Regions from separate parts of the Homo sapiens genome. Here region 1 is linked to region 2. Evidence: fine-mapped expression QTL. Tissue or cell type: gastroesophageal junction. Region 2 holds a variant in brackets; the other region holds the start of a gene. All regions are shown on one strand. Distances are between the middles of the regions.

The links. PIP is the estimated chance that this variant, and not a neighbour inherited with it, causes the effect.
Region 1: COG8 starts here. The variant in region 2 is fine-mapped to the expression of COG8 in gastroesophageal junction (GTEx, PIP 0.99).

The regions. Positions count from the first base shown.
Region 1 is chr16:69,336,045-69,344,044 of GRCh38, forward strand. COG8 (component of oligomeric golgi complex 8) reads right to left here and starts at 3,520. Exons shown (of 6, transcript NM_032382.5): 1 at 3,132-3,520; 2 at 461-668. The coding sequence starts at 3,508. NIP7 (nucleolar pre-rRNA processing protein NIP7) reads left to right here and starts at 3,728. Exons shown (of 5, transcript NM_016101.5): 1 at 3,728-3,841; 2 at 3,962-4,048; 3 at 4,150-4,288; 4 at 5,136-5,276; 5 at 5,489-7,062. The coding sequence starts at 3,786. The coding sequence ends at 5,608. TMED6 (transmembrane p24 trafficking protein 6) reads right to left here. Exons shown (of 4, transcript NM_144676.4): 4 at 7,206-7,596. The coding sequence ends at 7,363. RefSeq lists silencers at 3,197-3,246, 3,257-3,306 and enhancers at 3,727-3,846, 4,027-4,106.
Region 2 is chr16:69,001,847-69,010,106 of GRCh38, forward strand. All of the region lies in intron 15 of TANGO6 (transport and golgi organization 6 homolog), which reads left to right. It also overlaps the pseudogene RNU6-898P. Among named protein-coding and RNA genes, the nearest start is that of HAS3, 100 kb to the right of the region's middle. The variant T/A (reference allele first, on the strand shown) is at 3,593.

The sequences.
Region 1 (8,000 bases), 330 kb after region 2:
ACACTTTCTGGTTTGCTCTCTCCCCAGATCTTTGTGGGCTGGCACCTCCTTCTCATTTAGGTCTCAGCTTAAATGTTACCTCCCTAGAAGAGTCCTTCTTGATCACCCTACCTAAAGAAACCTACCCTAGACTCCCTTACCCCATTCCCTGTTTTTTTCTTCAGACACCACTATCTGAAATGATATCATTTCTTTGTCAATTATCAGACTTCCCATTAGCACGTAAGCTGCATGAGAGCCAGGACCACTTTATTCACACTGTATCCCCAGCATATAGAGCAGTGCTTGGCACATGATTAATATGTATTTTGAATAAATGAATGTTTTCTGTTCAGGCATACCTGGCTGGCAGAAACTGATGTGAAACATGCAAGAGTTTCTACCTAAAGCTTCAGTCCTGACCACAGAATAAATGATTACAAGAACATTACTTTGAGTCCTCTCTGGGCAAGGTGGCTACCTGGATGACAGGGATGGAAGAGTATTTCCTCTCCAGTCGGCGTACGTAGGCTGCAAGCTCCAGGGCCTCTTCATAATAACTGTTCCGGACACAGGTGTCCATGAGCTGAGGAATCTCCAGTATTTCCAAAATTTCTGTGTGCCGGTTTAGGGTCAGGCTATTCATCCGGCGGTTGGAGCTGATCTCCTCGGCTTCCTTCACAAAGTTCCTAGTAATAATCAGAAGAATGTTGATCCTTCACTGCTCTGTACCCAAACCTTAGCTACAGTTACCAAGTACCTGCTATGAACATTGGGCTGGATGATCTATCTGATTTATTCCTCACACCCCACCTATAAGGTAAGTATTATTACAATTGAGGAAATTTTTAATCCCAGAGAGGTTAAGCAACTTGTCCAAAAACATACAATTAATAAATCTAACAGATGGAGATCCAGATATGCCACTTGCTGGCTGTGGCAAGGTACTTGGCCTCTCTGAACCTATTTCCTCATTAGTAAAACGGTATATAGGGCCAGGCGCAGTGGCTCACGCCTGTAATCCCAGCACTTTGGGAGGCTGAGGTGGGCGGATCACTTGAGGCCAGGAGTTCAAGTGAAACCCCATCTCTACTAAAAATACAAAAAATTAGCCAGGCATGGTGGTGCGCGCCTGTAGTCCCAGCTACTCAGGAGGCTGAGGCAGGAGAATCACTTGAACCCAGGAGGTGGAGGTTGCGGTGAGCAGAGATGGCGCCACTGCACTGCAGCCTGGCCAACAAAGCAAGACTCCGTCTCAAAAAAAAAAAAAAAAAAAGTATATAGGACCCTCCTCATAAGGGTGTAAGAACTAAATGAGATGATGTGTGTGAAGCATTTAACATAGAACTTGAAACAGAGCGAATGCGTCAAAGTAAAAATAGTAAAAGAGACACAGTTAAATATTTAACAGTAGCTATCATTATTTTCAAAATGAAGCACTAACTGCCTAGAATCCACAATCTTTCCCCTCAGGTCTTCATCTTCTCCTATGCTAATGTTCAACCATAGTTCCTGCCACAGTCTACTTTCAACACTTCTCCATATTTGCAGAGACCTGCTTTATCAAGTCCCCTATCTATTCTGGAGCATGGAAGGGTACAAAAGCTGCTGTCAAATATCCAAAGGCTCAAAAGAAAAATTAAACTTTAATCATGAAAGGCTGGAAGGCAGAACTAGGGATAATGGAGACAGAATATGACTCACAAAGGACTTTTTTTTTTTTTTTTGAGACGGAGTCTTGCTCTGTCACCAGGCTGGAGTGCAGTGGCACGCATCATCTTGGCTCACTGCAACCTCCGCTTCTCAGGTTCAAGTAATTCTCCTGCCTCAGCCTCCCGAGTAGCTGGGACTACAAGCGCGTGCCACCACGCCCAGCTAATTGTATTTTTAGTAGACATGGGGGTTTCAGCATGTTAGCCAGGATGGCCTCGATCTCTTGACCTCGTGATCCGCCTGCCTTGGCCTCTCAAAGTGCTGGGATTACAGGTGTGAGCCACCGCACCCAGCCTTTTTTTCTTTTTTTAAGAGAGTTTCACTTTGTCACCCAGTCTGGAATGCAGTGGCACAATCACAGCCCACCGCAGCCTCGACCTCCCAAACTGGAGTGCGGTGGCACAATCATGGCTCACTGCAGCCTCAATCTCCCGGGCCCAACTGACCCCCCCACCTCAACCTCCTGTGTACCTGGGACTACAGGCGCACGCCACCACGACCAGCTAATTTTTTATTTTATAGAGACAGGGTTTTGCCATGTTGGCCAGGCTGCTCTCGAACTCCTGGGTTCAAGCCTCAGGCTCCCAAAGTGCTGGGATTACAGGCTGAGCCACCACATCCAGCCATCCAAATGGAGAGACTTTTTGATATCTGATGCCCTCAAATGCGAGGATTTCCTTGTCACCTTCCCGTCAATGGAAGTTTTGAAGCAGATGACCTCCGGTCCACGCTTTCGTATAAAATAAGTATATAAATGTGCACATATATTCAGCTCACACCTATAATGTTAACTGTGTCAGACCCGATAATAAGAGCTTTGCATGAATCCTTTTTCTTTGTGCCCACAACTGCCCTTCGAGGGAGGGACGTGCTTCTGGGTAACCAGTTCTGAATTCGAAACCTCCTAGCTGTGTCCTTGGACGTCACTAATCTCTGTCTTGACTTGCTCATATGTAAAATGGAAATAACAGGGCTGGGCGCAGTGGATTATGCCTGTAATCCCAGCGCTTTGGGAGGCCGAGGCGGACAGATCACGACATCAAAAGATCGAGACCATCCCAGCCAACATGCTGAAACCCCGTCTCTACTAAAAATCCAAAAAAATTAGCTGGGCGTGGTGGCGCGCGCCTATGGTCCCTGCTACTCAGGAGGCTGAGGCAGGAGAATCGCTTGAACCCAGGAGGCAGAGGTAGGTTGCAGCGAGCCGAGATCTCGCCACTGCACTCCAGCCTGGCGACAGGGCGAGACTCCGTCTCAAAAAAGATAAAAAAGGAATAACAGTACCTATCTCGAAGGCTGTTGTGAGGTTTAAATGGATTAATAAAGCGCTCAGCAGAGAACCTGGAACGTGGTAAACGCTTTATGTGTTAGTTATTTCTACCATCGTAAATGTCAGCTTTTACAGTTATAAAACCCCTTTAGCGCCAGGCGCGTCGCACCTGCAGCTCTGCTGGAAGCTGGGCAAACGGTCGAGCAGGCGGCCGAGCGACGCCTCCACGTCGCCAAACAGGCGGTGGATGCGCTCGGTGCACTCGGCGCCGCGGATGAAGGTCTTGTAGTTAGCGAAGGCCAAGTCGCGCGTCTGCTGCAGCAGCTGCGCCCGCTCCTCCGCCAGGCGCTCGGGCTCGCGCCGCAGCCGCTCCAGCCCCGAGCCGCTCAACTCCCGGAGGTAGCGGCCCACATCGGGCCGCTCGCGCCACTGGGCCTCGGGGAAGCGGTCCCGGAACAGCGACGCCAGGAGCCCTTCATCCTCCACCTCGCCGAGAGCCGCTGCTGTGGCCGTGGCTACCGATGGGATAGTCGCCGCGGTCGCCATCTTCCCAGCAACAACGTCACTTCCCTTCCGGACCACAAGGGGCGCTGACTCCGAACTTAGGACAGGAAGAAACAGGCACATTTCCGGTCTCTATGCTTTCTCATCCGGCCGGCTTGCTTTCCCCTGCGGTCGTCCAGACTATTGGGCGCTAGCGAGACGAACTATTGGTACGGGGCTAGAGAGGAAGGCTTTGGGATTGCCGGGGAGCAGCGAGCGACCGACTTCCGTTTCCAGTTACCAAGGCACGAGGATCCGGTGTTCCAACCCAGGGGGAAAAATGCGGCCTTTGACTGAAGAGGAGACCCGTGTCATGTTTGAGAAGATAGCGAAATAGTAGGAGCGCGCGGGGCGGACGCGGGAGTGTGTGGGTGTGGTGGCCAAGGGTGGAGTGGGGGCGCGGTGCCGGAGACCGGTTCGTTCGGGCGCGGTCTCCAGTCCTCTTTTTGCCCTCAGCATTGGGGAGAATCTTCAACTGCTGGTGGACCGGCCCGATGGCACCTACTGTTTCCGTCTGCACAACGACCGGGTGTACTATGTGAGGTGAGGCGGGGCCGGGCAGGCAGCATGGACCCAGGGGAGAGGGGTCCTGGGTCCCACGAGCCTCCTTCATCCGCAACCTTGCTCCCCCTTTACCCTTTTAGTGAGAAGATTATGAAGCTGGCCGCCAATATTTCCGGGGACAAGCTGGTGTCGCTGGGGACCTGCTTTGGAAAATTCACTAAAACCCACAAGTTTCGGTTGCACGTCACAGCTCTGGATTACCTTGCACCTTATGCCAAGGTTTGTGGGGCGGTTTCCAATTCTGCCACGGGCGATGAAGTCAAGGATTAGGCAGATTGTCCGGCAGCTTCTCTCCCACAGAGTCCCTGACAGTGTGCTTGGAGGAGTTTCAGCACATGGAGATGTGTAGAGGTCTTGCAGCTTGAGCATGGTCAGGGCTATGGGATAGGAATGCTATGTGGCTGCGTAGGGTTAGTTTTCTCCAGCGAAGTAGAAGAGCCTAGGGAGACCCAGCTAGAGATCAGAAAGCAAATAAGTGGCAGCAATGAAGACACCGGGGTCCAGAAAAAGAGCTGTTAACCTGGCCATGGAGGATGATCCTTGTAGAGTTGAGAAAATAACTTTTTCTATTTTTTTCTTTTTCTTTCTTGCTCTGTTTTTTCTTTTCATTTCTCTTTCTCTTTCTTCCTGACACAGTTTCACTCTGTCGCCCAGGCTAGAGTGCAGTGGTGCGATCTCACTGCAGCCTCCACTTTCCAGTTTCCAGTGATTCTTGTGCCTCAGTAGCTGGGATTACAGGCATGTGCCACCACACCTGGCTGATTTTTTTGTGTGTTTTTAGTAGAGACAGTGTTTCACTGTGTTGGCCAGGCTGGTCTCGAACTCCTGGCCTCAAGTGATCCACCTGCCTTGGCCTCCCAAAGTGCTGGGATTACAAGCGTGAGCCACTGCACCGGGCAACTTCCTGCATTTCTGTTCAGGAGATAGACAGTTTGAGGAAAACATGAGTCTCTCTGTTTCCCTTAAAATTATTTCAGAAAATTATTCACAGATCCAGCAGCTAGCTTGTCTGCATGGATAGAAATAGTAACGTTTTTATGTCTCTTGGATTTTAATTCTCTTATAGTATAAAGTTTGGATAAAGCCTGGTGCAGAGCAGTCCTTCCTGTATGGGAACCATGTGTTGAAATCTGGTCTGGGTCGAATCACTGAAAATACTTCTCAGTACCAGGGCGTGGTGGTGTACTCCATGGCAGACATCCCTTTGGTGAGTAGAGATGGTAGCTGTTACAGAACTCAAGTACTCTTATTCAAGAAGGGTATGTCTTCAATCTGAGTGCTTGAGAGAATAAATTCTCAGCACGTTTTGAATCCCAGAAAGACCAGAACTGTATTTTTTCCGTCTTTGTTATTTCCAGCCCTCAATATGGGCATATTGAATGACTTCAGTGAGTTAGTGTCTCTTCTTTTGAATCCCAGGGTTTTGGGGTGGCAGCCAAATCTACACAAGACTGCAGAAAAGTAGACCCCATGGCGATTGTGGTATTTCATCAAGCAGACATTGGGGAATATGTGCGGCATGAAGAGACGTTGACTTAAAACGAAGCCATTCCAAGGACAGACGGCTGTATGGAAAGGCCGAGCTTTGTTTCCTGTGTTTGTGTGGACTCCACCATCATGTTGAATTTTGTCAACACTCTGGCCTCTTCAGGGACTTCTTATTTACTGTACTCTCTATCACTGACAAATGCAGGCTGGATTCTTATTATATACAGAGATGGCTCAAAAATGGGGTTTCAGATCTTTGTGACGAAATAGAATACTGTTTCATATTTGAATCAGAGGGCTTCTTGTTCTGAGAAATAGGTTCAAAATCATTGGAACCAGGAACAAGAATAGCTTATTGTTATCTGTGATAACACTGTTTTCTAAACACAAGGATTTTCTTTTTTATTAATATGCAACATAGACATTGCCATAACAGAATAATAAACCACATGTGGGGTTTTAAAAATGAAATTTGGCTAATAGGAGCAATTCAGCTATTTTTCTATACAGTAATTGGTGTGTGGTATAGAAGAAAAACGGGTTCAAACCCCACTTCTGCCACCTACCAGCTATATGGCCTTGAATGAGTCATTCAGCTTTAATAAGGTTCATTTTCTTCTGTTTAAAAAGACACAAAACTTGAAAATCAGCTTTGGCCATCTACCTGAGAATTAGAAAGTCTGATTTTTGGAATTAGAAATCATGATTGTAGGCTGGGCACAGTGGCTCGCGCCTGTAATCCCAGCACTTTGGGAGGCCAAGGCGGACGGATCACTTGAGGTTAGGAGTTTGAGACCAGCCTGGCCAACATGGTGAAACCCCATCTCTACTAAAAAAAAAAAAAAAATTAGGTGTGGTGACACATGGCTGTGGTCCTAGTTACTTGGGAGGCTGAGGCAGGAGAATGGCTTGAACTGGGGAAGCAGAGCTTGCAGTGAGCCAAGATGGTGCCATTGCACTCCAGCCTGGGCGTGACAGAGTGAGACTCCATCTGATTGTAAAGCATCTAGTACAGTGTACAGTGCCTTGGAAATGATAGGTATGGAATAAATGGTAATTATTTTTATATTATATATATTATGTATTCCTGTTATTAAGTGTAGAGTTTTATGAGTATAATTTGATTTTATTACCTTCTTTTTTACAAGCTGTTTTCTCAGTATTTTTCTTGGATGGGATGACGCTAGGCTGGAAAGTTTTTTTCATCACTATGATTTTATAAAACAATTTTTTCTATGAACCTTTACTTACTTGACTGGATTGGACTAAAAGCACTGATCAGAGGCCACGACATAAAAATTCAGTCCCTTTGTCCTTCCCCGTGCCTCCCAAAGTTACTTTAAGATCCTTAGAATATTTCTTTAAATATTTTATAGACAAAAAATTTAAAGACTATCTGTATTGCAAAATTAAACTATTTCTTTAATGAATATATTGCTTATTTTAAGTTCCAAAGGTGAAGTCTTTAAGAATAAAACATTACCAACTCCTGCTTTTATATGTAAGCAAACTTGATTGTGGCCTTTTTCAACTCATCTTCCTTCTAAGGTTTTCTGTTAGCCTCTAAGTAGACTCAGTGAAGGCTAAGGGACTGCTATATGATGAACAGTATTTTGATGCATACATTTAATACATACTTCTTCAGAACTTTTTCACTGTTATGATTTTATTGCCATTTTGCTTTTTTAGATGTGTGCAGCAGACTAAAACATTAATGAGATAATTGATTTTTGTCCCATAACATTACAAAGCTGATTCGACTAAGCCCCAGAAGAAAACAGCCAGGGTGCTATAGTCACCTTAGCTTAGCATCTTGGCTTCTTTGTATCTGTAGTTGTTGGAACATTGAAGAGACGCTTCAAGAAATACAGTTGCAGGATCCCAGAAAGAATAATAACAAGGCTCTGGGCTGTCGACCACCAGTTCACGTAGTTATAGTTTGATTGGATAAGGAAAAAGTCAGCCATTTTCCTCATCCGGGCAAAGTTGTAGTATCGCCACATGTGAAAGATATTGTTCTGCACCTTTTGTGTGCCGTCCTATGAGAGAGACAATTTTAAGGGGGATTCTTCCAAACCCCCATCTAGCCTCACCTGAGCGCTCACTAGCACTAACCTATCTCAAGTCAAATAATTTACCCATATGATTTTAAGATGTACAATACAATGATAGTTGTTAAATGTTGTGTTTGCTATGTATGAAATATGGTCTGGATTTGAGTTTAAAATTTTTGTTTTTGTTTTATGAGACAGGGTCTCACTTGTTTGCCCAGGCAGGAGTACAGTGGCGCAGTCACAGCTCACTGCAGCCTCAACCTTCTGCGCTCAAGTGATCTTCCCACCTCAGCCTCCCTAGTAGCTGGGACTACAGGCACATGCCACTACACCCAGCTAATTTTTTTTTTTTTTTATTGTAGAGACAGGGTTTTGCCATGTTGCCCAGG
Region 2 (8,260 bases):
AAATATGAGAAGAAAGAAGTATTGGCCTGTAGTAATAACCACTCACTGTAAGCAACTGCCATCAGCTATTCCTAAAAGTATATGTCCTACCTAGCTGTTATACACCAAGGCTAAAAGTTCTCTCATAATGCAAAATAATTTCTGATACCCCCAAAAGTAAAAAAAAAGATAAAGTAATGTGATGCAAAACAGAGCAGAGCCTTAGATTTTGAGAGGGACCTGTCTACTTACAATTCTTGGAGTTCCATGAGGAAAACAGCTTTTTCTTCCAAAACAGGATCTGTGACATCTTCTATTTTTCTCCCAAGGAGTCCCAGGCTGTCAGAAATTACCATAGGTCCTCTCATGTGAGCATCAAGGGTAGCAAGAAAACGGACAGGAGAAATAATTCAGTTGACTGAGAAGAAAAACAAACCAAAAAAATAAGATCCAAGAAAAGGCATAAAGCCCTTTAATTTATATATATATATAAAATTTGGGTGATATGGTTTGGCTCTGTGCCCCCACCCAAATCTCATCTTGAATTGTAATCCCCATAATCGCCATGTATTAAGGAAAGGACCAGGTAGGAGGTGACTGGATCATAGGGATGTTTTCCCCCATGCTGTTGTTAGGATAGTGAGTGAGTTAAGTGAGTGAGTTCTCTTAAGATCTGATGGTTTTATAAGACAGTTTTCCCTGCTCTTGCTTGCTCTCTCTTTGCCTGCTGTCATGTAAGACATGCCTCTTCCCCTTCCACCATGATTGTAAGTTTCCTGGGGCCTCCCCAGCCTGCAGAGCCATGAGTCAATTAAACCTCTTTTCTTTATAAATTACCCAGTCTCGGCTGTGTAAAATGGACTAATACGTTGGGTATCTGTTTTTAATTAAGCTGATTTTTAACCATAGAGCACTTTTAAAAAAAGTCCTTTTGGGTCAGGTGCGGTGGCTCACACCTGTAATCCCAGCACTTTGGGAGGCTGAGGCGGGCAGATCACCTGAGGTCAGAAGTTCGGGACCAGCCTGGCCAACATGGTAAAACCCTTTGTCTACTAAAAATACAAAAATTAGTTGGGTCTGGTGGCACACACCTATAGTCCCAGCTACTCGGGAGGCTGAGGCACCAGAATCACTTGAACCCGGGAGGTAGAGGTTGCAGTGAGCTGAGATGGTGCCACTACACTCCAGCCTGGGTGACAGAGCAAGACTCCATCTCAAAAAAAAAAAGAAAGTTTTTAAATCTTTTATCATTAAACTTTAGCCAGGACAAGCAGCTGACACCTCTGGCTTTTAAGCCCTTTTTTCCCCCCTCAAAGGTATTTTTCCAGGTAAAACAAAAAAAGCCTTAACGAAGGTTATGATTTAACCATGGATGCACAAGGTGTCTCCAAAGAGATGGCAAGCAGTTTTTATAAGATCTAGAATCACACCTAAGGTAGCTCAGAGAAAAGAAAATTCAAGTCAGGAAATCAGAAGCTGCCCATAGAGGGAAAAAGAATAAATAAATGGCAAAAGTCCCACAACTGTCAAATCAAAAGGAATTCATTCCCTAAGCCAGGAATTTAACCCAGGCCACCATCACAAAAGAGCAAAGCCTTAGCTACTGAGCTACAGCAGAAGGTAAGCACCATATTGTTTTTCCCAGGAGTCTAGAGCAGCCATTTTTGAGCTTGTGAAGAACATACCTTTTCAAGGGAAAAGAAAACAGATTTTAGAATTAAAAGCCAGTATTTCTTTCAGTCTTACTGAAAGCAAACCAATACTTTAAAAAACGTGTTTTAACATAGGGGACCAAAATTTAGATAGACTGTTATAAATTAATTTTCTTTCATTGTAGTTTATTTAATTATATAAAAAAGTTTAATAAGTTATCTTTTATGAACTTTATCATGACTTACATAGACCACCTATGACATGCTTGGACCTTTTGACTTGTCCTATACTTTCTTCTTTCCTAAATAATCAGTCATTCTACTTTAGGACAAGAATTTACCATACAAGATCCTTTCTCACATAAAATTTCTTTTCTTTATAGCCTTCCTTATCAAAAATACATCTTCATATCCATAACTTTCTACTCATCTCTTTCCCCTACTTACTGTTTTTTTTCTTTCTATCTTGTTTCTATTTTCTTCCTAAATCCACATTTTAAACCCCACTTTAAATAACATCTGAATTGGCAAAAAAAAAAAATTTTTTTCAATAGCAGCATATCTTCTTTGGCACATTTTACATACAGAATTATATATGAATTTTTAGTAATCCTAAATTTTAATGAGTTTAAATTAAATGAACTTGAAAAATGCTTGGACTTATTTACTTAATTTATGAGTGCTCTTTTACTTATAAGTCAATTTGTTACCCTGTAAACAATATATAACATAATAAATGTAAATACACGTAAACACAGCTAGACATGTATGCACACACATAAAGATCCAATAGCTTTTATCTTGAAACTCTAGTCATGAGATAGTAATACAAACTCACCGTTTCATAAAAGATAGCTAGATCCAAATTATTTCTTTTCTTTTTTTTTTTTGTTTTTGAGATGGAGTCTCACTCTGTCATCCAGGCTGGAGTGTAATGGTACAATCTCTGCTCACTGCAACCTCCGCCTCCTGGGTTCAAGCAATCCTCCTGCCTCAGCCTCCTGATTAGCTAGGATTATAGACGCTTGCCACCACGCCCGGCTAATTTTTGTATTTTTAGTAGAGATGAGGTTTCAGCATGTTGGTCAGGCTGGTCTCAAACTCCTGACCTTGTGATCCGCCCGCCTCAACCTCCCTAAGTGCTAGGATTACAGGCAAGAGCCACTGTACCCAGCCCCAAATTATTTCTCTGACAAAATCGGGACTTGTCCACATGGCTAAACTTTGTTTGCTAATTTGAATTTGCTCCAGTTGCTTAAAAGGCACCTTAGTAGCAAGTCCTTCAGGACTATTGTCCCCATGTCTAACAAGGATCTTTACTAGACATAGAACTTTTTCTATCTGTCTTTCTATCCGGTTGTCTCCCACTGCAAATTCTCACCTCCTGCATCGAAACATTAAGTCAAGTGACAAGACAAGAAAATGCTGTTACAGAAAATGATAACTTTAGGGTAGAAAACAAGAAAAAGCAAGACCGGGATTCCCCTAGGGTGGGACTCTAACCCACAATTCTAGAGGGAATGCCAATTCCGAACACCCCAGAGCATCTGGCATGGATGACAAACAGTACCAAGTGCTGAAAACCCCAGAGCATCTTGGGAGTGTCCAACAGTGAACCCCAAAGGCATGAGACCTAACACAGTTGGGGGCCACAGTACAACATGACTCTGGCATCCCAGGATCAACACAGTGGGGGACCACTCACAACCAAGTGTCTTGCTTTAACCAATTGCTCAACTATCCAAAGGAAAAACTACAAACGTGACAAAGAAAAAAGGATAAGCATGCAATTTGACAGTAAGAGCAGAAAAGTAAAATGGCCAATTGTTAGAAACTAAAGAGAAAATGTCAGAGAGAAGGGGTGACAGGGTGGGCTACTAAGGAAGTGGCCTTCCAGGTGTGCTCCCATCTGGGGCACCCAGACAATGGGAGGCTGCAGTCAGGCTCCCAAGCCAGAGGTC[T/A]TATGGCCACTTTCCCATCTACCCAAAATAAAGGACAGAGAATCCAAAATCGAAATTTAACAAAAGGTAGCGGCCAGGCACGGTGGCTCATGCCTGTAATCTCAGGAGGCCAATCCCAGGAGGCCAAGGCAGGTGTATCACCTGAGGTCAGAAGTTCAAGACCAGCCTGGCCAACGTGGTGAAACCCCCGTCTCTACTAAAAATACCAAAAATTAGCCAGGCACCTGTAATCCCAGCTACTTGGGAGGCTGAGGGAGGAGAATCACTTGAACCCGGGAAGCAGAGGTTGCAGTGAGCTGAGATTGTGCCATTGTACTCCAGCCTAGGCAACAACAATGAAACTTCATCTCAAAAAAAAAAAAAAAAAGGTAGCAAGTTGAATCCTCATTTTACCCAGCCCCTATTCAAGGTGGAGTCACTCTGGTTTGAATGCCTTTGACATAAGGACCTCCAAGAGTCTGAATCTGCAGTGTTTTTCTTGCCTCTGTTAAGAAACTTTTAAATAATACTAATATTTTTTCAAAAACAGAAACAATGAAAATTTAGAAGGCTTTTACAAATGTTACTCATTAAATGGCCGGCTTTGAAGCAGTAAAAACTGAAATTATATTGTCACCATCGTTTACTGACAAATAAGGAAAGGAAGAGCTGGCAGAAGCGATGCCAGTCAGAAAGCAGTGGGAAAGCCCTGGGTTCTGCTTGGCTGGTGGTGCAGGCAGAACTCAGTTCCTGTAGTGGGCAGATCACCGAAGAATCCAGATCTCCTGCCTCCTCTGTTTGAGGGGAGCAAGGATTGTGAATTGTCTGTGAGATTAGTCCCAAGCCTTTGGTCTCTGAGTTTTTGGGAGGCAGGGCTGTGTTTCTTATCAGATTGTGCTTACACACATAGACTGCTTCTTTTCTAGTATGTGAATATTTTTATATGTTGCTTCTGTTTTTCCAGCTTCACTGAAAAATAGATTCTCCAGTCCTCGTTCTGACCCTTTCATTCGCAAAGTTTCATTTTTTAAAAAACAGACTTCTGGCTGGGTGCGGTGGCTCATGCCTGTAATCCTAGCACTTTGGGAGGCCAAGGAAAGTGGATCACCTGAGGTCAGGAGTTTGAGACCAGCCTGACCAACATGGCAAAACTCCATCTCTACTTAAAAAAAAAAATACAAAAATTAGCTGGGCATGGTGGCACGCGCCTGTAATCCCATCTACTCTGGAGGCTGAGGCAGGAGAATCCCTTGAACCTGGAAGGCGGTGGTTGCAGTGAACTGAGATCGCACCACTGCACTCCAGCCTGGGTAACAGAGCGAGACTCTGTCTCAAAACAAAAATAAAAACAAAAACAAACTTATTGAAATAGAATTCATATACCATATAATTCAACCATTTACAGTGTACACCTCAATGTTGTTGTTGTATGCTCACAGGGTTGTATGCTCACCATTACAATCAATTTAGGACATTTTCATCACCCCAAAAGCAACCTTGTACCCATTCCCAGTCGAGCAATCACTACTGTACTTGCTGCTGTAAGGGTTTACTTAGAGTTGGACATTTCATATAAACGAAATACACCATGTGGGCTTCTTTCACTTAGCATAATGTTTTCTTTTTCTTTTATTTTGAACATGGAACATTTCACGAATTTGCCTGTAATCCTTGCACAGGAGCCATGCTAATCTCTGTATCATTCCAATTTTGGTATATTTGCTGCTGAGGCAAGCACAGTGTTTTCAAAGTTCATCTGTGTTGTAGCATGTATTGGTAATTCATTTCTTTTTATTGCTGAATAATATTCCGTTGTATTTATATGCCACATTTTTTTTTCTTTTTTCTTTTCTTTTTTTTTTTTTTTTTCGAGACTGAGTTTCGCTCTGTCACCCAGGCTGGAGTGCAGTGGCACGATCTCGGCTCACTGCAACCTCTGCCTCCTGGGTTCAAGCAATTCTCCTGCCTCAGCCTCCCCAATAGCTGGGACTACAGGCACGTGCCACCACACCTTGCTAATTTTTTGTATTTTTAGTAGAGACGGGTTTCACTGTGTTAGCCAGTATGATCTCGATCTGACCTCATGATCCATCCGCCTCGGTCTCCCAAAGTGCTGGGATTACAGGAGTGAGCCACTGTGCCCGGCCTGGATATGCCACATTTTTAATCCATTCATCAGTTGATGGATATGTGAATTTTGGGCTATTATGAATAAAACTTCTATGTATATTTGTGTACAAGTTTTTATGTGGAAATGTGTTTTCAGTTCTCTCGAGTCATATGGTAACTCTATGTTTAACTTTTTGAGGAACTGCCAAACTGTTTTCCAAAGTTTTCCATTTTACATTTTCACCAGCAGTGTAGAAGGGTTCCAGTTTCTCCTCACCAGGGCTTATTATTGTCTGCCCTTTTGATTACAGCCCTCCCAGTGGATATGAAATGATATCTCATTATGGTTTTGATTTGTACTTCCCCAGTGATTAATGATGTTGAGCACCTTTTCCTGTGCTTCTTGGACGTTCATATATCTTCTTTGGAGAAATGTTTTTTCAGATCTTTTTTAATTGAGTTGTCTTTCTTTTTTGTGTTGTAAGAGTTCTTTATAGATTCAAGAGACAAGTCCCTTACACTTATATGATTTGCAAATATTTTCTTCCATTTTGTGGGTTGTCTTTTCACTTTTTTTAAAAAAAAGAATAGGCTTTTTCTTTCAGAAAAAATAGACTTTTTTTTTAGAGCAGTTATAGGTTCACATAAAAATTGAGCAGAAAATCGAGAGAGTTTCCATATGCTCCCTCCCCACCACACAGCCTCCTTCACTATCAAAATTCTTTTCACTTTCTTGATGGTGACATTTGAAGCACAAAGGTTTTTAATTTTGATGAAGTCCAAAGTATGCATTTTTTCTTTTGTCACTTTTGCTTTTGGCATCATATGTAAGAAGGCTTTGTCTAACTTAAAGTCACAAAGATTTACTCCTGTTTTCTTGTTTTTTGTACAGCCGAGATCTTGCTATGTTGATCAAAGCCATCACTCCCAGGCTGGTCTTGAACTCTGGGCCTCAAGCAATCCTCCCACTTAAGCCTCCCAAAGGGCTGAGATTACAGGCGTAAGCCACTGTGCCTGGCCTTGTATGTTTTAAGAGTTTTACAATTTTATCTCTTATGCATAAATCTGTGATCCATTTGAAGTTAATTTTTGTTTTGTTTTGTTTTGTTTGTTTGGTTTTTTTTTTGGAGATGGAGTCTCACTCTGTTCCCCAGGCTGGAGTACAGTGTACAGTGGCACGATCTCAGCTGACCACAACCTCTGCCTCCCAGGCTCAACCAATTTTCGTGCCTCAGCCTCCAATGTAGCTGGGATTACAGGCACCTGCCACCATGCCTGACTAATTCTTGTATATTTAATAGAGATGGGGCTTTGCCATGTTGATAAGGCTGGTCTCAAAATCCTGACCTCAGGTGACCTGCCCATCTCAGTCTCCCAAATGCCGGGATTACAGGTGTGAGCCACCGAGCCCGGCTGAAGTTAATTTTGTACATGTGTCAAGAAGGGGTTTTCATGTGGCTATCAAGTTGTTCCAGCCTCATTCTTTCTCCATTGTTTTGGCATTCTTGTTAAAAACCAATTGAACATAAACAGGAGAGTTTATTTCTTTTTTTTTTTTTTTTTTTTTTTTTTGAGACGGAGTCTTGCTCTGTATGCCCAGGCTGGAGTGCAGTGGCGTGATCTCGGCTCACTGAAATCTCCGCCTCACAGGTTCAAGCGATTCTCCTGTCTCAGCCTCCCAAATAGCTGGGATTACAGGCACACGCCACCATGCCCAGCTAATTTTGTATCTTTAGTAGAGACGGGGTTTCTCCATGTTGATAAGGCTGGTCTCGAACTCCTGATCTCAGGTGATCCACCCACTTCGGCCTCCCAAAGTGCTGGGATTACAGGCGTGAGCCACTGCGCCTGGCCCGAGAGTTTATTTCTTGACCCTCAGTTTTATTCTATTGATTTACCTATTATTAGGCCGGTATATACTATCTTGATTATTGTAGATTTGTAGTAAGTTTTAAAATCAGAAGCGTGAGTCCTCCAACTTTTTCACTGTTGTGGATCCCTTCCATTCTTATATGAATTTTAGGATCAGGTCACCAATTTCTGCAACAACAGCAACAACAACAAAAGCAGCTGGCATTTTGGTAGGGATTGTGTTGAATCTGTAGGTCAACTTTGGATATTGCCATTGTAATATTGTCCTTCAATTCATGAACATGGGATGTCTTTCCATTTATTTGTCTTCTTTAATTTCTTTCAATAATGTTTTCAGAGTATATGTTGCACTTCTTTTGTTAAATTTATTCCTATCTTATTCTTTTCAATGCAATTGCAAATGGAATTATTTTCTTATTCAGAATATTCATTGCTAACCTGAATACTTACTTTTGGCATTTGGTGGCAGGAACTCAAGGGCATATTAGGATACATCAGTTGCTTGAAGTGAATTAAATTATTTCATGCATGTACTAAGAGCGAAATGGGTGTCAGTGCTGCTAAGCTGGTGAGGCCACCCCCAAATGACTGTGCGATTGATGACCTGATTCCTCTATGACTGTTATAGAGAAAGACTTTCTCTTGCCAAAGTATCTAGAAAGTTTTCAATCATTCTGTGTATCATCTTATCATTCTATTTGCTACCCT